7 linked regions of the Homo sapiens genome follow. The protein of the gene in region 7 purifies or fractionates together with the protein of the main gene of each other region. This does not show direct contact. Each region holds a gene or a part of one and is shown on either strand. Other genes may lie near its edges. The genes, in order: ZC3H7B, GALK2, ARMC1, WDR1, ASNS, LRRC47 and GALE.

What was found.
Region 1: the proteins of GALE (region 7) and ZC3H7B fractionate together in Homo sapiens (co-fractionation; one large-scale study listed by BioGRID). This does not show direct contact.
Region 2: the proteins of GALE (region 7) and GALK2 fractionate together in Homo sapiens (co-fractionation; one large-scale study listed by BioGRID). This does not show direct contact.
Region 3: the proteins of GALE (region 7) and ARMC1 fractionate together in Homo sapiens (co-fractionation; one large-scale study listed by BioGRID). This does not show direct contact.
Region 4: the proteins of GALE (region 7) and WDR1 fractionate together in Homo sapiens (co-fractionation; one large-scale study listed by BioGRID). This does not show direct contact.
Region 5: the proteins of GALE (region 7) and ASNS fractionate together in Homo sapiens (co-fractionation; one large-scale study listed by BioGRID). This does not show direct contact.
Region 6: the proteins of GALE (region 7) and LRRC47 fractionate together in Homo sapiens (co-fractionation; one large-scale study listed by BioGRID). This does not show direct contact.

Annotation. Positions count from the first base shown.
Region 1 is NC_000022.11:41,329,025-41,332,524, forward strand, and holds part of ZC3H7B (zinc finger CCCH domain-containing protein 7B), read left to right. Parts: intron 1-998; coding exon 999-1,079; intron 1,080-3,146; coding exon 3,147-3,203; intron 3,204-3,500. UniProt on the Homo sapiens protein: May be a specific regulator of miRNA biogenesis. Binds to microRNAs MIR7-1, MIR16-2 and MIR29A hairpins recognizing the 'ATA(A/T)' motif in the apical loop.
Region 2 is NC_000015.10:49,278,247-49,281,746, forward strand, and holds part of GALK2 (N-acetylgalactosamine kinase), read left to right. Parts: intron 1-3,500. UniProt on the Homo sapiens protein: Acts on GalNAc. Also acts as a galactokinase when galactose is present at high concentrations. May be involved in a salvage pathway for the reutilization of free GalNAc derived from the degradation of complex carbohydrates.
Region 3 is NC_000008.11:65,624,178-65,627,677, forward strand, and holds part of ARMC1 (armadillo repeat-containing protein 1), read right to left. Parts: intron 3,257-3,500; 5' UTR 3,222-3,256; coding exon 3,039-3,221; intron 1-3,038.
Region 4 is NC_000004.12:10,085,800-10,089,299, forward strand, and holds part of WDR1 (WD repeat-containing protein 1), read right to left. Parts: intron 2,943-3,500; coding exon 2,865-2,942; intron 2,734-2,864; coding exon of another isoform or gene 2,575-2,733; coding exon 2,494-2,574; intron 2,142-2,493; coding exon 1,908-2,141; intron 1-1,907.
Region 5 is NC_000007.14:97,862,409-97,865,908, forward strand, and holds part of ASNS (asparagine synthetase [glutamine-hydrolyzing]), read right to left. Parts: intron 2,089-3,500; coding exon 1,851-2,088; intron 1-1,850.
Region 6 is NC_000001.11:3,793,699-3,797,913, reverse strand, and holds the start of LRRC47 (leucine-rich repeat-containing protein 47), read left to right. Parts: upstream 1-1,415; 5' UTR 1,416-1,437; coding exon 1,438-2,052; intron 2,053-4,215.
Region 7 is NC_000001.11:23,795,099-23,797,754, reverse strand, and holds the end of GALE (UDP-glucose 4-epimerase), read left to right. Parts: coding exon 1-60; intron 61-607; coding exon 608-721; intron 722-812; coding exon 813-879; intron 880-972; coding exon 973-1,058; intron 1,059-1,168; coding exon 1,169-1,246; intron 1,247-1,489; coding exon 1,490-1,604; intron 1,605-1,747; coding exon 1,748-1,806; 3' UTR 1,807-2,156; downstream 2,157-2,656. UniProt on the Homo sapiens protein: Catalyzes two distinct but analogous reactions: the reversible epimerization of UDP-glucose to UDP-galactose and the reversible epimerization of UDP-N-acetylglucosamine to UDP-N-acetylgalactosamine.

The sequences.
Region 1 (3,500 bases), on a different chromosome or scaffold from region 7:
AAAATACAAAAAAAAAAAAAAAAAAAAAAAAATTAGCTGGGCATGGTGGCACATGCCTGTAATCCCAGCTACGCGAAGGCTGAGGCAGGAGAATCTCTTGAACTCAGGAGGCAAAGGTTGTAGTGAGCTGAGATCGCGCCACTGCACTCCACCCTGGGTGACTGAGCAAGACTCCATCTCAAAAAATCAAAAAGAAAGAGACAATCCCCAAATCCCCACAAAACAAAACTAAGCTTTTTTTTTTTTTTTTTTGAGACAGGGTCTTGCTCTGTCGTCCAGGCTGGAGTGCAGCGGCGCAGTCTTGGCTCACTGCAACCACTGCCTCCTGAGTTCAAGCGATTCTCCTGCCTCAGCCTCCCAGGTAGCTGGGATTACAGGCACCCACCACCATGCCCGGCTAATTTTTCTATTTTTGGTAGAGATGGGGTTTCACCATGTTGGCCAGGCTGGTCTTGAACTCCTGACCTCAGGTGATCCGCCCACCTCTGCCTCCCAAAGTGCTGGGATTACAGGCATGAGCCACTGTGCCCAGCCAGAAGTAAGCATTCTTTATAGGTCTGCATGCATGCATTCCTAGAAAAGAGCCCTAAGGAAACACATCAGCCCAGCAGAGTGTGATTCCCTCCTGGAGAAGCCTAGGGTGAAGGGGGAGATCCAGGGAGCACTTGCTGTCCCTGTAACATTCTTCCCTTCTACAGTGACATTGTCACTTTTGCTGAATTTTAGAAATAAAAAGATTATATTAAAATAAAAACAAAATGATTCATTTTCCATCCCCAAATAAAAGGAAAAACAGAAGCATGGGATGGTGGTCCTGGTGCCACCACTCACTAGCTGTGTGACTTGGACAAGCCAGGGACACCTCCTGGGGCCTCACTTTCTCATCTATAACATGGGGTGACTATGACCTCCCTCCGTAGGGCTGCACAGGTGTCCAGGAGCACAGCTTTGTGAGCCCGGGCAGACTGACCCACCGCCCTGTGTCTTGTCCTCTGCAGGATGAAAGCGTGACTCAGCTTGGTCAGGAGCTGGCCCAGAAACTGGGGCTGCGAGTTCGCAAGGCGTATAAGAGGCCCCAGGTAGGTGGGTTCGGGACCCTGGGAGGGTCGGTGTGGACGTGAGGAGGTCTGAAGGGAGGGACCAGGCTCCGTGGGGAAGGTGGGTGAGGGTGGCCAGGGCTGGGTTAGGACAGAGGGGAGTGACAGCAGGTGATCTTCCTTGTCTGTTGGCTGAAAGCCCTGGAACCTTTCGGAAAAGGAGAGAGCAGCCACCGCTTCTAGCTCACTTTAGACTCCAACTGTTGAAAACCACTCCCTCCCCTGTGCTGGCTGACTTTAGTCACCTGGAGGTGGCCTGAGTTGACACTGGCGTCCTTCAGCATTATGTTCTCAACACCCATATGGTGCAAATTTGAAGTGTTGGTATCTGTTTGGCTGGTTCAGTTCCACATAGATTCATTTGGTACCTGCCGAGGGCCAGGAGGCTGCACAAGGGAAACTCGTGACTCGAGTCTCTGCTGTGACCTTGAGCAAGTTAGTTCATCTCTTTCCACCTTGGTTTCCTCATCTGGACGATGGAGATAATTTATGCCCACCCCAGAGGGCTCATGGGAGGATTAAAAAGAGAGAATGGATGGGCTGGACGCAGTGCCTCATGCCTGTAATCCCAGCACGTTGGGAGGCCAAGGCGGGCAGATCACCTGAGGTCAGGAGTTTGAGACCAGCCTGATCAACATGTAGAAACCCCATCTCTACTAAAAATACAAAAATTAGCTTGGGGTGGTGGCACATGCCTGTAATCCCAGCTACTCGGGAGGCTGAGGCAGGAGAATCACTTTTTTTTTTTTTTTTTTTTGAGACGGACTCTCGCTCTGTCACCCAGGCTGTAGTGCTGGAGTGCAGTGGCGCGATCTCAGCTCACTGCAAGCTCCGCCTCCCGGGTTCACGCCATTCTTCTGCCTCGGCCTCTCCGAGTAGCTGGGATTACAGGCGCCCGCCACCACGCCCGGCTAATTTTTTATATTTTTAGTAGAGATGGGGTTTCACCGTGGTCTCGATCTCCTGACCTCGTGATCCGCCCGCCTCAGCCTCCCAAAGTGCTGGGATTACAAGCGTGAGCCACCGCGCCCAGCTGAGAATCACTTGAACCCGGGAGGCGGAGGTTGCGGTGAGCCAAGATCGCACCATTGCACTCCAGCCTGGGCAACGAGCGAAACTCTGTCTCAAAAAAAATAAATAAATAAAAGGCCGGGCGCGGTGGCTCATGCCTGTAATCCCAGCACTTTGGGAGGCCGCGGTGGGAGGATCACGAGGTCAGGAGATCGAGACCAGACCATCCTGGCTAACGCAGTGAAAGCCTGTCTCTACTAAAAATACGAAAAAATTAGCGGGGGTGGTAGCGAGCGCCTGTAGTCCCAGCTACTCTGAAGGCTGAGGCAGGAGAATGGTGTGAACCCAGGAGGCGGGACTTGCAGTGAGCAGAGATCGTGCCACTGCACTCCAGCCTGGGCAACAGAGCGAGACTCTGCCTCAAAAAAAAAAAAAAAAAAAAAGAGAGAGCAAATGGGCCGGGTGCAGTGGTTCATGCCTATAATCGTAGTACTTTGGGAGGCCGAGGTGGGCAGGTTGCTTGAGCTCAGGAGTTCAAGACCAGCCTGGGCAACATGGCGAAACCGTATCTCTACAAAAAGTACAAAAATTAGCCTGGTGTGGTGGTGCATGCCTGTAGTCTCAGCTACTTGGGAGGCTGAGGTGGGAGGATCACATGAACCCCAGAGGTCAAGGCTGCAGAGAGCCGAGATTGCATCCAGCCTAGGGGACAAAGTGAGACTCTGTCTCAGAAAAAATTTAAAAATTAACAAATAAAAAAATAGAATGTTTGAGATGGTGCCTAGCATGGTGCCTGACACACAGTAGAGGTGTGCAGGGAGGTCCTCTGCCCAGGTCAAGGTTGGAAGAAGAAAACCCCAGAATCTGACCCAGAGAGACAGAGCAGTTGATTTCCGGCAGGCCTGGGGACAGGGACTCTCGGGGGCGCTGCAGACCCCAGCTGCTTGTGTCAGGGCCTCTTTGCTGCCCCAGCTAAGGGGACCTTGAGCATCTTTTCAGAATCTTTACCTCTGCCCACCTCTCTCCAATCTCTGGCAGGAATTGGAAACCTTTTCTCTGCTCAGTAACGGCACTGCGGCTGGCGTGGCAGATCAGGTAGGATCGGGGCTGAACCAACCTGTCTCAGTTTATCCATTATGAGAGGTTTGGATTCACTCTCTCCGGGTATAAATGACCTCAGGCAGTGGGTCCAGGGGCCTCCGCCTCCCTAGGAGGTACCTCCCGTGTCCACGGGGGCAGGATGTGGGGACAGGCCATGGCTGCTGTTGGCAGGGAGTGGTCATTGCCGGGGAGCCGCCGGGGGCAGCCTCACTCTTGAACCCTGGCCAGGACACAGTCTGGGCAGCCTGGTCCCACACGCCTTCCTTCTGCCTCCTGCCCCACATTTCCTGC
Region 2 (3,500 bases), on a different chromosome or scaffold from region 7:
CTAGACACTGACTCAAAAAAACAAAAACAAAAATAAAACACAATTGGACATATATTTTCCTGTTTGCCTCAGGCTTCATTACTCCTTAATGTTGAATTGGCTGTTTTAGAGGAATCCAGATTCTTTAAATTCTCTTTCCCTGAACACTTAAAAAATGGTCTTGTATTCTATAGTAATTATAACTTGTCTTTACATTTGGCTTGGGACTTGGCTGCTTTTTTATGTAAATCAGATGATTCCTTATTCATCATGTAAAGATAACACCAACTGTGTAGTACTTTAGAGCACTATAAGGTGCTTTTATTTGAAGTTTTAAACTTTAGTTTCTTGGATCATTACAATAATCCTGTGGCTAGGGAGGTGGGTATTTTTCTCCTTATTATGGATAGGAGGTAATATATGGTGGTGGTTAAGATTATGGGTGCTGGAGTCAGATCATTTGAGTTTGGATTATATCTTTAATAATTACTAGCCTAGTCTCAGCTAATAAACCCACTCAGTTTCCTAATCTGTAAGCCACAGAGACCTATTTTATAGGTGTATTAGTCCGTTATCACACTGCTGTGAAGAAATACTTGATACTGGGTAATTTTTAAAGGAAAGAGATGTAATTGACTCACAGTTCCACATTGCTGGGGCAGCCTCAGGAAACTTACAATCATGGCAGAAGGCAAAGGAGAAGCAGGTACTTTCTTCACAGGGCGGCAGGGCGGAGTGAGTGCAGGCAGGGGAAATGCCAGACACTTATAAAATCATCAGATCTCCCGAGACTCACTCACTATCATGAGAACAGCATGAGGGAAACCAACCCTGTGATCCAATTACCTCCACCTGGTCCTGCCCTTGACACGTAGGGATTATGGGGATTACAATTCAAGATGAGCTTTTGGGTGGGGACACAGCCAAACCATATCAGTAGGGTTGTGTGAGAAATAAATAATTCAGGCAAAGCAATTAGAACACTACCTAGCACATAATAAGTGCTCAATAAACCTTAACTACTAAAACTATTAGCATTGTTAATAGAATATGAATACATGGAAAAAATAATTAATAAGCATAAATTTCTCAAACTTCTCAATGTTCTGGTTTTTTCCTCTTAAGAGGGAGGATACTTAAATTTTGGTGAATCTCATTTGTCTTTTCATATCCCTTTGAGGTAGTGAAAAATAGATTACATCATCTCCATTTTGCAGGGACTGGTTGAAGTCCAGTGAGAAAAGAATACAGGCTTTGGAGTCAGGTGAGGTTCAAATCCTGGCACTTCCACTTCTGGTTATATATCTCTAAACCTCATTTTTCTCATGTCTATAATGGGGATAAGCAGAACTTTGTTTGGAGGTTTGAAGGAGATAATGCTTACAAAAGAAATAATGCAAGGTACTTAGTATACTTACCACATACTGTGACTCAGTAAATGTGGCTGTTATTGCTGTTGAGGGGAGGGGACTTTTTACACTGGCCCAGGGTCACAGTTAGTTGGGCACCCAGGTTCCATCATCTCTTACATAATGATGAATGTACTGCTTCATCTGGGTATGTTGTTTCTCTACATTTTAAATCCAAGTGTTTTGATCTTTTGGTTACTAATTTATTTTTAATGTACATATTATGGACACTGGCTCTGTGTGTCAGCAGACTATGAACAATGCCTATTGCATCAAAATCCTAAGTTTACCTCATGTCACAAGACAAAAGTTAATGTTAGTGAATCCACATGACCAACAAGGAATATGACACTTGCAGAATCTGTCAGATGGTGTTTGGGCAGCTATTCTCAGAAATTGAAAGCAGCAGGTGTTTATTAATATTTACTATGTGTTCGGCATTATGTGAAGTAGGGGACACAAAAGAAACACCATACTTTATTCATCTCTCACAAGAAACAGATGTGATAGAAACATGAAACAATTAACAATTAAGGAGCAATAATAACACTGTGATTCACAGACATGTAGATAAAAAGACAAGTAGAGCCACACTTAAAGCATATTCAATACATGATAATAGAGTTATTAACAGGGAGTGCTGAGGAGGAGTTATGTGGTATGTATGCATATGGGTGGTGGTGCAGGTTCCACGGCAAGGTGCTGCTTGAATTGTTGACTAGTTGGGAATGCGGTGGGGAGTATTGAGTGAAGAGAATGGAAAATCATATTTGTAAAGACAATGAGATGTGAAAGAGCCTGCGGTAGTAAAGAACAGCATTTGTTTAGTATCCCTCATGGCTGGAGCTTAGGATTTACAGGAGGAGTGGTGGGAGAGCAGGCTGGAGAAGTGCACTAGGGTTAAGTCATTAAAGACCTTGTGTACCATGCTGTAGAGTATGAGCATTAAGGTGTTGGCAACCAAGCAGGCAAGAGATGATTATATCAGTTTTTCAGAATAATTATTCTAGAAACATCATATAGTAAAACAGAAATAAGGGCCCGAATAAAGTCTTACAATAAATTAAACTGAATAGATGAATGAATGAATAGTAGTGTGAGTATTAGACGATACTAACTTAAATGTTTTAGGAGTTTAGAAAAAGGGGACACCATGATGGGAATAATATTCGAAGAAGACTCCATGATGAAGAAAGATTTTTTATTTTTTTATTTTTTTTTGAGAAGGGGTCTTACTCTGTCACCAGGCTGGAGTGCAGTGGTGCAACCTCGGCTCACTGCAACCTCCGCTGCCCAGGTTCAAGAGACTCTCCTGCCTCAGCCTCCTGAGTAGCTGTGACTACGGGCATGCACCACAATGCCCAGCTAATTTTTGTATTTTTAGTAGAGATGGGGTTTCGCCATGTTGGCCAGGATGGTCTTGATCTCTTGACCTCGTGATCCGCCCACCTCGGCCTCCCAAAGTGCTGGGATTACAGGCGTAAGCCACAGTGCTGGGCCATGAAGAAAGATTTGAGTGGTCAGCCCAGGGATTTATCTATAGTAGCTAGCCAATAAACTGGATATTGGACAAAAGTACAATTTATACAGGACAGAAGACAGGAAGTAATACCAAGTTGCATAAACATGTGTGAAGTGGTCAAAGAGACAAATCTAACTGGATAAGAATGGTAAATGATACAATTTCGTATGCATAATGGTCCCAGATTTTGGAAGCCTTCGAAATGCCTGGTTGAGGCGTTTAGATTTATTTCTTAATCAATAGGAAGCCATTAAAGATTCTTAAACAGATATTTCAAGATTTTCAGTTTGGGTTAGAACATCTTGGTTGGAGGAAGATGAGCCTGATGAGATGACACCAGTTCTGATTCTTACATTTAATGGAAATGCCAGAGAGACTTCATTACTTTTGGACAGGAAAATAAAGTTTAATGACCCCACTTTGGTTATGGGTAGACTGTGGAATAGTAGTTCACTGTTGGGAGACAAAGGAAGCTGAGGCAAAAATGAATGATTGCCCATATGAGATTTTCAGTGATACCAGTCTAGGGAAGGATAGAGTAAATAGAAAGATGGTAGAAACTGCTTGCTCTGTGGAGACTATTAGGGATG
Region 3 (3,500 bases), on a different chromosome or scaffold from region 7:
GAAATGTAAAAATGAAGGTAAATATAAAAGACCTTTTTTTGCTAGGCATGGTGGCTCACGCCTATAATCTCAGTACCTTGGGAAGCTGAGGGGGGCAGATCACCTGAACTCAGGAGTTCAAGACCAGCCTGGCCAACATGGCGAAACCCTGTCTCTACTAAAAATACAAAAATTAGCCAGGCATGCTGACATGCACCTGTAATCTCAGCTGCTAGGGAGGCTGAGGCAGAAGAATCATTTGAACCCGGGAGGCAGAGGTTGCAGTGAGCTGAGATTGCGCCACTGCACTCCAGCCTAGGTGACAGAGCAAGACTCCATCTCAAAAAAAAAAAAAGACATTTTTAAATTTTTAATCTCTTTAAAAGATAATTGACTGTTTAAGGCAAAAATATATACACTGTAGGTTTTTAAACATATGTAGAAGTAAAATGTATGACAAAAATAGCACAAAAGATGGGAGAAAGAAATGGAAATATACTCTTGTGTGATTCTTACACTACATGTTAAGGGTATGATTCATTTAAAGGTAGGCTGTAAGAAGTTAAAGATGCATATTGTAAAACCTACAGCAACCACTAAATAAATTAAAATAAAAACAAAAGTGTATACTAATAAGCTAACAGTGACGAAAAAAGGAAATCATAAAAACAACACACCCAATGGCCAGGCATGGTGGCTCACACCTGTAATTTCAGCACTTTGAGAGGCCAAGACAGGCAGATCACCTGAGGTCATGAGTTCGAGACTAGCCTGGCCAACATGGTGAAAAACCGTCTCTACTAAAAATACAAAAATTAGCCACATGTGATGGTGCGGGCCTGTAATTCTAGCTACTCAGAAGGCTGAGGCAGGAGAATCGCTTGAACCCAGGAGGCGGAGGTTGCAGTGAGCCAAGATTGTGCCATTGCTCTCCAGCCTGGGTGGCAAGAGCAAAAACTCTGTCTCAAAAACAACAACAAAAAAATCTTTTCTTCAGCCTCTTGGGAACTTTCACTCACTGATCCCTCTCCTTAGCTCTGTCCCTCCATGACTTTATACTTCCCTTCCTATTCAGCCTAGTATCTACTGTATATCATTTCAACCAATCCTGCCAAGATCCTAAACTCCCTTGCACAATCATTCTGCCCAACTTAACCTGGCCAAGTAACAACTCTAGACAAATCCAAGTACTTGGCTCTGTGAGCCTACAACAGGCCTGAATCATATCGATTCAGTATTACCAAACTAATCAGCCCTCAACACTGCTGAACAACTTTATCATTCTCCTCAGTTAGCAAATCTTTCCTATTTTCTGCAATTATGAGAGCCTTCCCCTCAAACCTCTCCCATTCTAGTAGCCCTTGCCCTCTGAACTTAGACATATTCTAGTCTATTTAAAAATAAAAAAGACTTACTTCCTTTAGCCCCAAGTCCCTATCTATAGATCAACCCCCTCTTTCTTCTCATCCTTCTTGCATTTCTTATTGAAATTGAACCCAGACTGGGGACTGTGCCATTTTTCCCATTTGTTACTACTGTTCTCTTACACCAATGTCTTTTTTGACTGCTAAACTTCATTCTGTAAAGGCAAAATAGAAATTTTTTTCCAAAAGGAAAAGTCTATATGCCTTCTGTACAAACTTGTGAAATTAGACTAAATGGGGAATCATCACGAGTCCTTAAGTAAAGGGCAATAGATAAAATTTCCAAAACATTAATTTTTTTAACAACTTTTTTTTTTTTTTTTTTGAGACGGAGTTTCACTCTTGTTGCCCAGGCTCGAGTGCAATGGCACAATCTTGGCTCACTGCAACCTCTGCCTCCTGGGTTCAAGGGATTCTCCTGCCTCAGCCTCCTGAGTAGCTGGGATTTCAGGCACCCACCACCACGCCCGGCTAATTGTTTTGTATTTTTAGTACAGACAGGGTTTCACTACGTTGGCCAAGCTGGTGTCAAACTCCTGACCTCAGGTGATCCACCCACCTCGGCCTCCCAAAGTGCTAGGATTACAGGAGTGAGCCACCACGTCTGGCCCTATTTATATGCAAAATATATAGGCATTTTTGCCAGAATAGGCAAATATAGACATACAAAAAGTAGATTAGTAGTTGCTTAGGGACAGGGAGTGTTGGGGTCTGGGAAGCAATAGATAAAAAGTTGTGGTGGGCCGGGCACAGTGGCTCACATCTGTAATCTAAGCACTTTGAGAGCTCGAGGTAGAAGAATCACTTGAGGCCAGGAGTTTGAGACCAGCCTAGTTAACATAGCTACATCCTATCTCTACTAAAAAAAAAAAAAAAAATTTATTTATAATAAATAAAAATAAAAAGTTGTGGTGATGGTGACACACAACTCTGTGAATATACTAAAATCACTTAATTGTATACTTTAAATGAGTGAATTATATGATGCTGTGTGCTTACATCTTAAAAAGCTGTTATAAAATAAAAACAAAATAAGTGCCTCTTTGAGTGTCTCTGTGTATGATATGATCCAATCCTCAAGATTGTTAAATGAAAAGGAAGTGGTAGGACATTCCATGCATGGAGTATGCAACAATTTGTATAAAAGAATAAAAACAAGGCTGGCCATGGTGACTCACAGCTGTAATTCCAACACTTTGGGAGGCCAAAGTGGAAGGATCACTTGAGCTCAGGAGTTTGAGCCTGGCCAACATGGCGAAACCCTATCTCTACAAAATATCAAAAATTTGGCTGGCATGGTGGTGTGTGCCTATCATCCCAGCTACTTGGGAGGCTGAGGTCGGGGGGATGGTTTAAGCCCAGGAGGTGGAGATTGCAGTGAACTAAGATCCTGCCACAGTGTACTCCAGGCCTAGATGACTCAAAAAAAAAAAAATAAAGAATAAAAACAATGTAGCATGTTACCACTGGTGTAAACAGACCACAGACCACACATACATATGTTTGTACCTACATAAATACAAACAACTAATTGCTCTCTTTCCGTTTTTTTACCTTGTCATCTAGCACTTTTTCCAAATTCTCACCTTAACTGCAAAAATAGAACAGAGATTGAAATTACTAAAGGCAACTTACAAGCAAAGCGGAGTGGACGACTGGAGGGTTGGGATGGTCCATAAATAAAATAAGGCCAGGCAGACATCCCTGATCCTGGACGATGGCTCTTCTGTTTAACGGATCTGCTGCTAGATCCCGTAACTGGTTAACTACCGATAGAGCGTCAGGCTCTTCACTCATGGTGGAAGTGGAAGAATTCATCTTCTATGCCATGCACATGAATAAAATCTTAAATTCTGTAGAAAAGGTTTGCAGAATTAGTTCTAGGCTGCTGAGGTATATTATAGCACTTGTGAAATAACCAGGATTACAACACCTTTAGAAAGAATCAGGTAACTAAAACTAAATCACATAAAAACTTAGAAATCGGCAACTCTACAGTTTGAGAAAAGTAAAATGAACGTAAGACGACTGAAAAAATTTGTGTGCACAATGTTTAAAGAACATATGTTGTCCTCAATATTCCAATAAATTATGTTT
Region 4 (3,500 bases), on a different chromosome or scaffold from region 7:
TGCTGCTCCATCCCACTGCAGCCCAGATCAGCACCGAACATCAGCATCTGCGTGACTCACACAGGTGTGGCATTTGAGAGTTGGGACATGGGGGTTTTGACAACTGGCCCTTGGGGTTTTGGTGGAAGGGTGGGATGCTGGTTGCTTTTTTGGGACATAAGTTTAGCCACGGTGGCAGGCCGGGTGCACTGGCCCCAGACAGTTGGCAGCAGTGGTATTAGGAAGAGCACTCTCAGGGCAGCCCTGCCAACAGAAACGGGACGGCAGACCTGAGGGCTGACACCTGGAGAACACTGTCGGGGATGGCTCATGGGAAACTGTTTTTCTGGGCAGTAGCGAAGCCTTACTCACCCGTGTACAATTTCTCACCATCCCACTTGGAGGCCCACTGGAGCATGGTCTCGACAAGAGCCCTCAGCTCCCCCAGGCAACAACCTCCTCGGCCCCATGCTGTGCGTGCCTTCCTTTTTATACTCATCACCCTGGGCTGTGAGCCCAGCAAGGAGGCGCTCCCGATTCCCCTCTATCCTCGAGGCCACGTCTAGTGAACCTTTATGGTTCAGCCTTCCCCCTCTCAGCAGTGCTGCTGCCCCCACTGCCCCGGCACAAAGGAACCGTGACTCTATGCATGAGCGTTGAGGTGACCTGGTCCGTAGGAGTCACACACACAACGTTAACGAGGCCCCTTCCTCGTGGGCAAACTCCCATGTAGAATGGATTTGGTGATTCTAGCAGCCCCTCCTAGAAGCCGTGGTGTGAAGGAGCCACTGACAGCACAGCACGGGCCGAGTGCACAGGCCCGGGGGCTGCTCCAGGCTGGCCCACACTAGCCCTGCAGGGTTCAGACCCTCTGCAGAGGCTGGTCCCCCAGAGCTCCACGGCAGCAGGATGCAATGGGTGAGGGAAGTGCTAGGGTTTGTCTCCCCGAGTGGCTTAAAGCAGGAGCCCGAGAAGGGCTGCTGGGATGAAGTGCATTGTCCACCTGCCTTGATATTACAGCTTAGAATAGCAGGAGGGGTCACCCACCCTGGGCCACCAGCGCTGGGGGAACCTGACTTGGAGTTCCCAGCAGATGCAGTGTGGGAAGCAGGCGAGGGCGCTGCTGTGAGAGGAGGACCTGAGGATACAGAAGGGACCCCTGCTCTGGCTCCTGTCCAGCTGCGAGATTCCCAGAGGCGTCAACTTGGCTGGTGTGGGTGGAGGGAGAAGGCAGGACCCCCCCAGCCAATGGAACACAGGGAGCCTTTGGCTCAAGTGAACCCTTCCGGGTTAGGGTTCAGAAGCAGGCACCTTGCTCCTCCCCAGGTTGGCATTTGGGGCCTTCACACCTGGGACCCATGGATGATTCTAACTCCGTTTCCTCCTGCTCCCATCGCTCCCTTATGGAACTCCAGTATCTCCTTCACACCCTGCCCACCACATTCAAACTCCAGGCAGCGCCAAGGCCCAGGCCCAAGGCCACCTGCTCTTGCTCCTCCCTCCTGCCCCTGGACCTCAGCGATGCCCCGTCACCTGCCCTGGTGCTCAGTGAGCTTCTGCTCTTGCCTGCAGTCGGGTAAAGCACAGGCTGTGCACTCCCAATTCAGGGAAGGCAGAGCCCTGCAGGAAGTAACCGCTCTCAACAGCTGGGGGTGATGGCCACTGCCCCGAATCACTAGGCCCTGACTCTCCAGTTCTCACAGTAGCTCAAGGGGAACTTGGCACCTGGCCTGCCACCATGGCTAAACTCATGTCCCAAGAAAGCAACCAGCATCCCAGCCTTCCACCAAAACCCCAAGGGCCAAGGAGGCCTGAGGACACCTCTCTAGCTTCCACCTGGCTTCCCCTCGGTTCCCCTTCCTTGCTGGCCACTCTGGTCTCTTCCCTGTCCACCCAGCGGGCAGAGCCTTCCCCAGGGCAGGCCTTACCTTGATGACGTGCAGGGGCTTGCTGGGGTTGTTTCTGTCCAGATAGTTGATGTACCCGGACAGGGAGACACTGAGCAGGTGGTCCTTCTGCCATAGGCAGCCCAGCTGCTGGTCCAGAACCGTGGAGCCCATGGGAAATGTGCTGACCACGGAGTTCACGCTGACGTCCCAAATCTTGGAAGTTTTGTCCCCAGAAGCAGAAAGCAAATGGGTGCTGTCGGGACTCCAACTAATCTATTCAGAAAAAAGCAGTGTGTCATGTGCCAGAGGACTACAGACTGGAGAGAGACCCCAAAAAGCAGCTTGTCCACTGCGACTGTTTGAGTAGGACAGAAGGAGCCCAGAGAGAGGGTGGGACATGAGTGAGGCCAAGGACAACACCCGCCTCCAGGTCTCCCGTTCCAGCCACTACCTTCTCCCATCACCTTATTGCGACCTTAAAGCTTTTCTGGGCAGATATAAAACCGCCCCGACTTATAGCCCCTCATTTCAAGTTTTTGTCTAACTCCGGAGTGAGTGTGGATGGACTGACACGTGGACTCGGCCAAATTCCCACCACTAGGCCGGGAAACACGCTCATACTCACTGCGTAAATCCCACCGTCGTGGGCCTTGCTTCCGCCCAGCGCGCACACCTTCTCCCCAGTCTTCCCGTCATAGATGTATATCTTCCAAGAAATAAAAACATGTGGGTCATGTGTGTGTGAACACCCTCTGGAGTAAGCAGTTTCTCCATGGACTGTGGCTGTAGAAAACCGGGGCTCACAGACTAAGCTCCCAGTGTGGTTTAAAAGCAGACATGCATTTACTGGGCTCTGACGACGAGTCTGCAGATGTGGGGAGGGCGATGTCTAAGTTCTGCATGTCAGGACTAGCATTAGGCAGCCTGCGGCTCTGAGCAGTCACGGGAGCAGGCAGACAAGCCATTCCCCACCCCAAAACCCATCCCAGTTCTTACCTGGCCGTCAGCACTGGCTGTGGCAAATCTGTTCCCATCAGGAGAGAATCGCACACAGTTGACAAAGCGGCTGTGGTCCTGCAGGAAAACAATTACCTGCCTGATGAGGGGCCGCAGGCCTGACTCTAGGTTCAAGAATGCTCTCTATGAAACACAGCTTGCAGCTCCAGCTGTTCATCAGTGTGAACTGTTAGTCCACTGGAAAATTTCAGAGCTTAAAAAAACATCCTGGGCAGTCCCTTAGTGGAGGGGCAGGAGTCTGCTCCAGCCTGCCTGCCATGCTGACCGCTCTACCTGCTGGGAAAGCTGATTAGCCCGAGCGAAGGCAGACCACCTCCAGTTATGCCCCCCCCAGTGAGGTGCCCCCAGCAGCTGCCCTCTTCCCTCTGGGCTCTGAAAGAGCTCAAGCCCCAATCCTTAAGCTTCACGATGGCTGAGACCAGGAGGCCTCTTCCTGGAGGCACCAGCCCTGTCTGGCTCTGTTGCCCAGGCTGGAGTGCAGTGGCACAATCTCTGCTCACTACAAGCTCCGCCTCCCGGGTTCACGCCATTCTCCTGCCTCAGCCTCCCGAGTAGCTGGGACGACAGGTGCCCGCCACCACGCCTGGCTAATTTCTGTATTTTTAGTAGAGATGG
Region 5 (3,500 bases), on a different chromosome or scaffold from region 7:
AAGTGAGAGAGAAAGCAAAAAGATCAGTAATGACTGGGGGGTTAGGAGGAAGAGGACGGGAGGAAAGAATAAGTGGAGCACAGGAGATTTTTAGGGCAATGAAACTGTTCTACATAATACTGTAATGGTGGGTACATGGCATTAAACATTTGTCAAATCCAAAAATCTATAAAACACAAAGAGTGAACCCTTATGTAAACTATGAACTTCAGTTAATATATAAGTATCAGTTCATCAAATCTAATAAATGTAGCACAGTAATGCAAGATGTTAAGAGTGGGGAAAACTGGGCAGGGGCACTGTAGGGGGAGCATATGTGAACTCTCTGCACTTTCCTCTCAATTTTTTCTAAAACTGCTCAAAAAAAAAAATAAAGTCTATTATGTTTTTAAAATAAAATGATCCCTAACAGGAAAAAAAAATGGCAAAGGATCTGAACAAATATTTCTCCAAAGAAGATATACAAATGGCCAATAAGCATAAGATAAGATGCTGGACATCACTGTCAACAGGAAAATACAAATCAAAATCACAATGAGATACCACTTCACATACACTAGAATGGCTAGAATTAAAGTCACACACTGTTTGTGAAGATGTGGAGAAACAGAAATTTTAATACACTGCTGGAGTGAATAAAAAATGATGCAGCCATTTCAAAAATTAGTCTGGCAGTTCTTCAACTGAACATAGTTATCATGTGTCCCAGCAATTCTACTCCTAGATATACACCCAAGGGAAATGTCCACACAAAAACTTGTACACCAATGTTTATAGCAGCATTATTCATAATAGCCAAAAGGGGTAAATAATGTCCTAAATGTCCATCAACTGACAAGCGAATAAACAAAATGCAGTGTATCCATGTAATGGAATATCATTTGGCCATAAGAAGTAAGTACTGATACATGCTACGGCATAGACAAATCTTGAAAGCACTATACCAAGTGAAAGAATCCAGTCACAAAAGCCGGTATGATATATAATCCCGTTCATATGAAACATACAGAATAGGGAATCCAGAGGCAGAAAGACTGGTGATTGCCGGGGCTACAACTGCAGGGGTGCAGCTGATGGATATGGAGAGATGGAATTCAAAGCTAAAGGGCACAGGAGGCAGGGTGTTGTGGTGCATGCCTATACTCCTAGCTACTAGGGAGGCTGAGGTGGGAGAATCGCTTGAGCCCACGAGTTCAAGGCTGCACTGAGCTATCAAACCACCGCACTCCAGCCTGGGCTGGGCGACTGAGCAAGACCCCATCTCTTCAAACAAACAAACAAACAAAAACCTAGTTGATCCTGCCAGCAAAAACTAAGGTAAAGGGCATAGGATTTGATTTGGTTTTTTTTGAGGTGGAAAAACAATCCTAAAACTGATTGGAGTGTTGTTTACCAACATCTGTGAATATACTAAAAACCACTGAACTGTATACTTCAAGTGGGTGAATTACATGGTATGTGAATTATCAATAAAGCTGTTTTAGAAATCCTAACACTTGCTGTGCTATAACTGCGCAAAGTACCACAATGCAATAATTGCAGAGTCAACCCTACGATTATAGTATGACACAGGAAAACTTAAAACTGCACTTAAGATCAAGCTAGATGTAGAGCATATTAGCACAGCAAAAAATAAACGACTGCACTAAAGAATCATCCTTCAAGGATTACAGAATTTAAGTGCTGAAAAGGAGAGTACAACTCCTCTGTTTTTTTAAAAAAAGGTAAAGACTCATAACTTAGTCACTTGTAAAATTCTGGATTGCTCTCTAAGAGATTTTCAAATATAATTTAAAAGAAAACGTACAACCAAGACAATAATGAAAATCTATAGAAAAATTTATTATTACCTTTAGCTTCTGAACATACAGCCAAAAATCCATCTTCTGTCATTGCTTTAAACAAAGGTCTGACTCCATATGTATCTCTACCCAGGAACACTTTCTTATTGGCAGTATCCAGTAAAACAAATGCAAACACACCATCCAACATACAAATTGTTTGCTCAATTCCTCCTTTGTCATAAAGATGAAGGATTATCTCACCATCCACTTTGGTCTGGTATTCAAATTCAAAATGCTGTTGCATCTTAGGAAGCGAAAGCAAAACCAAAATGTTAGACTCCTTGTACATTCACTAATAATTTTTTATTGCAAAGATGCTTCAGTATTTCTGAGCTCTATAATCCTTTCATGCACTTTGGTGATTTAGGAGAATCACAGCATTATTAAACTATGGTTCGCTTCAACTCATATTCTGCAAATTCTGTTCAACATAAAGCCGAACCCATGAAAATTTTAGTTGCAGTCTGATAAACAGAACATAATGGGAATGTGCCAGAACAGTAACCTGTGGAGGGATGGAAATGTATATTATATACATACCATATATGTAATACATACATATATTTATATATATACAGATTGAGTATCCCTTATCTGAAATGTTTGGAACCAGAAGTGTTTTGTGTTTTGGACTTTGGAATATTTGCATATATGTGAGATATCTTGGGCATGAGACCCAAGTCTAAACATGAACTTCATTTATGTTTCATATATCTTATACACAAAACCTAAAGGTAATTTTATATAATATTTCAAATAATTTTGTGCATGAAACAAAGTTTGCATACATGGAACCATCAGAAAGCAAAGGGGTCACTATCTCAGCTACCATGTGGAAAATCTGTGGCTGTTTGACATCATTGACCATCATTCCTGACTCTGAATTTATTATGCTGCTGATGAGCAATCATTTTCATATGCTTATAAAATATGACATACCATTAATACAGTAAGAAAGTAATAAGTAGCATAGTAGAATCACCAGAATACCTGCATCAGCTGTTAAACAGCTGTACAAACAATGGCAGGCTTTCAGACTCCACCTACAATGCTGCGTTTTGATTAAAAGGTTACTATACACTGTATTTTTTTTTCCTTTTTCAGGTGAGAAGAAACATCAGAAGCAGCTGAGCAACTAGGAAGCGGGTCCTCTGAGATTGAAGAGGCATTCGGCCAGATGACTTTTAAATGTTTCTCCAGAGTCATCTGCTTCATTAACAATGGCTTTTGTCTTGGAAGGCTCTCTTTGATTTTATAAACTGACATGACCTCTTGTTCTGTTATGAATGCAGGTAGCTCTAGTCCTTCAATATCTCTATCACACATTTTCACCATGTCATCTATACCTTTATACTACAGTCCAGTTTCTCCTACAGCTTGACTTTCTGTGTTATAAGTGTTTCTACTTTTCCTTATCACTGCTGCTCATAGAAATATCTACAGGTCTTTTTGACATTTTCAGTATCTTAACACCACAGAGCAGAAAATAAGCAAAAATACACAATGGATAATGCACATAAGTCCCATCTGTGGGGATCCTGCCAATGGCGTATCCAGCTTGAACATGTGCCATTCTATTACCCTTTGTGGGCGTGCTTGCATGGGGAAATCCGGGCATGTGTAGAAAAGTTATACTGCAGCTGAAGCGGGCTGAGA
Region 6 (4,215 bases), about 20 Mb from region 7:
GAACCACTGCACTCCAGCCTGGGTAACAGAGCAAGACTCTGTCTCAATAAATAAATAAATAAATAAATAAGAATTTGGGGGCTGGGTGCGGTGGCTTGTGCCTGTGAGCCCAGCACTTTGGGGGGCTGAGGCGAGCAGATCACCTGAGGTCAGGTGTTCGAGACCAGCCTGGCCAACATGGCGAAAACCGGTTAATATAAAAATTATATTAACACGGTTAATATAAAAATTAACCGGCCACGGTGGCATGCACCTGTAGTTCCAGCGGGAGGCTGAGGCAGGAGAATTGCTTGAACCCAGGAGGCGGAGGTTGCAGTGAACCAAGATAGCATCACTGCACTCCAGCCTGGGTGACAGAGCGAGACTCCGTCTCAAGAAAAAAAAAAGAATTTTGGTTTTGGTTTACACCACTCAAAAGTGCAGGAATTCCAAAACAAGCCGGTCGGGGCACAGTAGAGCACAGACTCTGGCTCCTCCATCCGCCCGCACCCCACCCTGTGAAAGGAAAATAAATCTCAAAACCCCACAATCACTAAGTCAAAGGAAAAAGTCAAGCTGGGAACTGCTTCGGGCAAATCGGCCTCCCGTCTTATTCCTAAATAAGATAGTTACAAATACATATTTTTAAAGCTACACACCTCCCTCACAATTTGCCCACAAAGAAATTCTCTGTGGGCCTCAAGATCTTTACCCTAAAACAGTTCTGTTGAATTTCACCCTGGCAATGCAAATTGATAGCTTCCCTTCACAGGTGCGAGACAAAGGACTGAACTCAAAGCCATCCCTCTGCTCACCTAGACAAATGCATATCTGATCGCTTCCTTTGCTCTACTGTTTACGTAGAAATGAAGATTCAGTAAGCCAGACTAAAGCATAAGCGACTATTCCTCTACCCGCGTCTCACATGCATAATAAATTGTGCAGTCAGCGAAAGGCTGAACAAAGACTCAAAAGAATGCACCCTCCGGTCTCTTCTCTACCTGTGACCTGAAAGCCCTCTCCTGGAATTGTCCAGCCTTTCTGGGCTGAACCAAGGTACACTCGCACGTGTTGATTGATGTCTCACGTCTCCCCAAAATGTACAAAACCAAGCTGCATCCCAACTTCCCTGGGCACCATCGTCACGATCTCCTAGGGTTGTGACACTGGCGTGTCCTTAACCTTGGCAAAATAAACTTTTTACATTTCATTGAGTCCTGTCTCAGATATTTTTGGGTTCATAACCCCCACCCTCACCCCTACCCGCGGAGAGAGCGAGCCGCTCTCCAGCCCCTCCCCGGCTCTACGCAGGAGAGGCCACTCTCCTCTATGGCACGCGCGGCGGCACTCTAGCAGCCAGGTGGCTTCTCTATGGGCTTTTCCGGCACAGGTCGGAAGTGGCGCGCGCTGCCCCGGAAGCACCCTGGTGGGTGGGTGCCTGCCAGCAGCTGAGGCGCCATGGCGGCGGCAGCGGTGTCAGAGTCTTGGCCGGAGCTGGAGCTGGCTGAGCGCGAGCGGCGGCGGGAGCTGCTGCTGACGGGGCCCGGGCTGGAGGAGCGAGTGCGGGCGGCGGGTGGGCAGCTGCCGCCGCGGCTTTTCACCCTGCCGCTGCTGCACTACTTGGAAGTGAGCGGCTGCGGGAGCTTGCGCGCGCCGGGGCCTGGCCTGGCGCAGGGCCTGCCGCAGCTGCACAGCCTCGTGCTGCGGCGCAACGCGCTGGGGCCCGGCCTGAGCCCCGAGCTCGGGCCGCTGCCTGCCCTTCGGGTGCTCGACCTGTCGGGCAACGCGCTGGAGGCGCTGCCGCCGGGCCAAGGCCTGGGCCCCGCCGAGCCGCCGGGCCTTCCGCAGCTGCAGAGCCTCAACCTCAGCGGCAACCGGCTGCGCGAGCTGCCAGCCGACCTGGCGCGCTGCGCCCCGCGCCTGCAGAGCCTCAACCTCACCGGCAATTGCCTAGACTCCTTTCCCGCCGAGCTCTTTCGCCCCGGCGCGCTGCCCCTGCTCAGTGAACTGGCGGCTGCTGACAACTGCCTCCGAGAACTCAGCCCCGACATCGCCCACCTGGCCTCGCTCAAGGTCAGCGGGGGCTGCCCGGGCGGGGCGGGATGGGGCCTTGGAGTAGCCCTGGAGAAGGAACCCCTCTCGGGGCCGAGCAGTTCCTAGTGACGCCCCCTGGGGCACTGGGCCCAGGGAATTCCTACAAGGCTGAAAGGAGCCAGCTGCGGGGGGCATCACCCCTGGGAAGCAGATGCCGCCTTCCAACTCCCCCTTCTCCTGGCCACACCAACATACTAGGTGGCCTCTGAACTCCCCCGCATTCTGTTAACTGGACTTTTACACGTGGTACGCTATTTTGTAATTGTTAGCAAACCTGGCTTCTCCTGTAGATCGAGCGTAGAGACCTGTCTTTTTTGTATCTAGTACTTGTGAAGTGACTTGAGAGTGAGTCTGGTGGTGAAGGGGGCACCCTGGATTTTGCATAATGCCACATGCTGTGATCTTGAAGATTATATTTCACTTCATCCTAATAGCAGCTTTCCAAGGTAGGGGTGGTTATTCCTGTTTTACAGAAAGCCAAAGGGCCTGCCCAAAGTAAGCAGCAGGTAACTTGGGTTTTTCTCCAGACTATATTGTCCAGCGTCTGTTTACTAATTAATCTTGGATCCCCAGGCCCCGCGATAATGCTTGGCCTATAACAGGTGCCCATTGAATCTGTTGCCTAAAAGAAAGTAGGGAAGCCACATGGCAGAACCACGACCTAAACCCAGCCAGATGTTCTCTCCATCTTCTCTTTTGGTTTCATCCTTAAGGCAGTCCTGCATTTCTTCCCCCATTTTTCGTCTTTGAATTTATGCAGACATTTCTTTTTTTTTTTTTTTTTTTTGAGATGTAGTCTGGTCCTGTCACCCAGGCTGGAGTGCAGTGGCGCGATCTCGGCTCACTTCAACCTCCGCCTCCCGGGTTCAAGCGGTTCTTCTGCCTCAGCCTCCTGAGTAGCTGGGCTTACAGGCGCACACCACCACGCCCGGCTAACTTTTGTGTTTTTAGTAGAGACGGGTTTCACTGTGTTGGTCAGGCTGGTCTCGAACTCCTGACCTCATGTGATCCGCCTGTCTCGGCCTTCCAAAGTGCTAGGATTACAGGTGTGAGCCACCGCGCCTGGCCTATGTGGACATTTCTTAATAAAATACGTATACACTTTAGCAGCTTATCTATTTATTTGCTGTAGCAATTCCTCAAGACATTGCAACTCATTTTACAAGTAACATATCTATATAAGGATATATAGACAAACCCTGGCCGGGCGCGGTGGCTCACACCTGTAATCCCAGCACTTTGGGAAGCTGAGGCGGGCAGATCGCTTGAGGTCACACCACCAGCCTGGCCAACATGGTGAAACCCCATCTCTACAAAAATACAAAAATTAGCTGGGCCTGGTGGCGCGTGCCTGTAGTCCCAGCTACTCGGGAGGCTGAGGTGGGAGGATCACTTGAGCCCAGGAAGTGGAGGTTGCAGTGAGCTGTGATACCAGCCTGAACAGAGCGAGACCCTGTGGCAAAAAAAACAAACCCACTGTAGAGTGACACATGGTTACTGATGTAACTGCCCAATGGGTTCATTTTATCCACTACCCGGATAGAGCTGATTTATCAGGGCAGGAGGGTTGCAATAGAGAAAGTTTTACACATGTAGAGCCAGCTAAAGTGGAGACTGGAGTTTTACTGTTATTATTATTGTTGTTTGAGATGGAGTCTCGCTCTGTCTCCCAGGCTGGTGTGCAGTGGTGCAACCTTGGCTCACTGCAAGCTCCGCCTCCCGGGTTCACGCCATTCTCCTGCCTCAGCCTCCCGAGTAGCTGGGACTACAAGCGCCCGCCACAACACCCAGCTAATTTTTCGTATTTTTAGTAGAGATGGAGTTTCACTGTGTTAGCCAGGATGGTCTCGATCTCCTGACCTCATGATCTGCCTGTCTTGGCCTCCAAGGTGCTGAGATTACAGGCATGAGCCACCGCGCCCGGCCGAGTTTTATTACTAAATCAGCTTCCCCAAAAATTTGGAGGCGGGGTTTTTCAAGGATAGTTTGGGGAAAGGGGAGGGTGGCTAGGCAACGGGTGCTTGCTGCTGATTGGTTGAGGTGCAATCATAGGGGTGTGGGAAACGGTCCTGCTTACTGAGTCACTTCTGGCTGGGGCTGCGGGGAGCTCTTTTTGGTTTCAGGTAGAGCCATTGATCAGAC
Region 7 (2,656 bases):
TACGGCAAGTCCAAGTTCTTCATCGAGGAAATGATCCGGGACCTGTGCCAGGCAGACAAGGTGAGGGCCCCCTTGACAGTGCCCTGGCTCCACTGATCGATGGACTCCTCAGGGCCCACCCTGAGCCCAGGGGTGGGATTCCGAACACCCCCACTAAGGAGGAAGCTAAGGCTCAGGCAGTTGCAGTGGAGGGCCCCATCCCCTGCTTGTTTCTAAAGATAATAAATAGACAACTGGCCGGGCGCAGTGGCTCATACCTGTAATCTCAGCACTTTGGGAGGCCCAGGTGGGCAGATCACCTGAGGTCAGGAGTTCAAGACCAGCCTGGACAACATGGTAAAACCCCCATCTCTACTAAAAATACAAACATTAGCCGGCCATGGTGGTGTGTGCCTGTGGTCCCAGCTATTCGGGAGGCTGAGGCACAAGAATTGCTTGAACCTGGAAGGCAGAGGTTGAAGTGAGCCAAATCAGGCCACTACACTCCAGCCTGGGCCATAGTGAGACTCCATCTCAAAAAAACAGAATAGGCATGAGGAGGGCTCTGGGTTCAGCTGGGACACGCTGCCTGTGCCTCTGGCCTCACCACCTGACCCACATCCCACAGACTTGGAACGCAGTGCTGCTGCGCTATTTCAACCCCACAGGTGCCCATGCCTCTGGCTGCATTGGTGAGGATCCCCAGGGCATACCCAACAACCTCATGCCTTATGTCTCCCAGGTAAGGCAAAAGGGAAGGGACAGAGGAGTGGCCCTGGGGTTAAAGCTGGTGCCTGGGATCTGGGACGAACTGACCTGATCTCCACCTCCAGGTGGCGATCGGGCGACGGGAGGCCCTGAATGTCTTTGGCAATGACTATGACACAGAGGATGGCACAGGTGAGCCTAGGACCAGGGGGACCTAGGAGTGGGAGCCAGGAAGGAGAGTCAGGGGGAACAGACTCCCCATCCAACACACTCCCTTCTCTGCAGGTGTCCGGGATTACATCCATGTCGTGGATCTGGCCAAGGGCCACATTGCAGCCTTAAGGAAGCTGAAAGAACAGTGTGGCTGCCGGGTAGGAAGAGAAGGGAGAAGTGAGGGAGGGGAGGGACCAGATCCAGGCAGAGCGGCCCAGAGGCGTGGTCAGTCCAGCCCGCTCCATAAACCCTGTTCTCCGTGGGCCAGATCTACAACCTGGGCACGGGCACAGGCTATTCAGTGCTGCAGATGGTCCAGGCTATGGAGAAGGCCTCTGGGAAGAAGGTAGGCCCCCCCGCCCCACCCACCTCACCCACCTCACCCCACCCAGCTCTCAGCAACAGAGCAGCTTTGGCCCTTCCCACTCACCTCTCTGGAGGGTACCTGGCACTGCCCAGTCTCCTCAGCCTGCCTAGCACCCGGTGCCTGCGGGCCAGCCGCTGCTCTGCACTTCTGCTTCTTAAAGACCTGGCCAGCAGCTGGGCCAGGGCCGGCTCAGCTAAGCTCCAACTACCTCCTGTCTTGCAGATCCCGTACAAGGTGGTGGCACGGCGGGAAGGTGATGTGGCAGCCTGTTACGCCAACCCCAGCCTGGCCCAAGAGGAGCTGGGGTGGACAGCAGCCTTAGGGCTGGACAGGATGTGTGAGTGCTGGCCTGACCCCTGCAGTTAGGGGCCAGGGAGGGGCTAAATCAGATCTGGGCATGCCCACCCAGGGCGGGCTGTGGGGTGGGGGAGGCTCTGCATTCCACCGTGGGCCCTGAGCACACACCTCGCCGTGTTGCAGGTGAGGATCTCTGGCGCTGGCAGAAGCAGAATCCTTCAGGCTTTGGCACGCAAGCCTGAGGACCCTCCCCTACCAAGGACCAGGAAAAGCAGCAGCTGCCTGCTCTCCAGCCTCTGGCAGGAACTCAGGGCCCTGGAGCTGCTGGGGCCAAGCCAAGGCCTCCCCTACCTCAAACCCCAGCTGGGCCCGCTTAGCCCACCAGGCATGAGGCCAAGGGCTCCACTGACCAGGAGGCCGAGGTCTCTAACTCTTATCTTCCACAGGGTCCAAGAGTTCATCAGGACCCCCAAGAGTGAGTGAGGGGGCAAGGCTCTGGCACAAAACCTCCTCCTCCCAGGCACTCATTTATATTGCTCTGAAAGAGCTTTCCAAAGTATTTAAAAATAAAAACAAGTTTTCTTACACTGGGGCAGGTTCTCACAGATGGTCACTATCCACCCCTGGAATAGAATCAGCCAGGCCTGAGCGTTGAGGAAGCAATTTCTTTAATTTTATCGGAATCCAGGACACAACAAGAAAAACACCCAAAAACCACATGGAGACAGAAGACGAGACACAACTCCTCCCCCACTGCCTCCCTGCTCTAGAGTGGGGACAAAGTGGGGGTGAGACAGCTGGGGGGAGACCTGAACCTCAGTCCAGCCCTACAGGCTCCAGGCCTGCAGGGAAGGAGGGTAACGGGGAGGCAGGGCCCAGCCCCCCAGTGTGGGGAAACAGCTGAGGGAAGGCCCCCCTCAAAAGGCTCCACCTCCTCACCAGCACTCCTGCCCAGGGACAGGGAGCCCACAGCAGCAAGGGGACCCCGGGGCCATGGCCACATTCATGACTGAGAAGCAGCTGAGTGGAGGCAGGAGACACGATTATCTGGGCAGAATCAGTTGGGGCAGGGGCCTGGGGGGGCCCCATGGG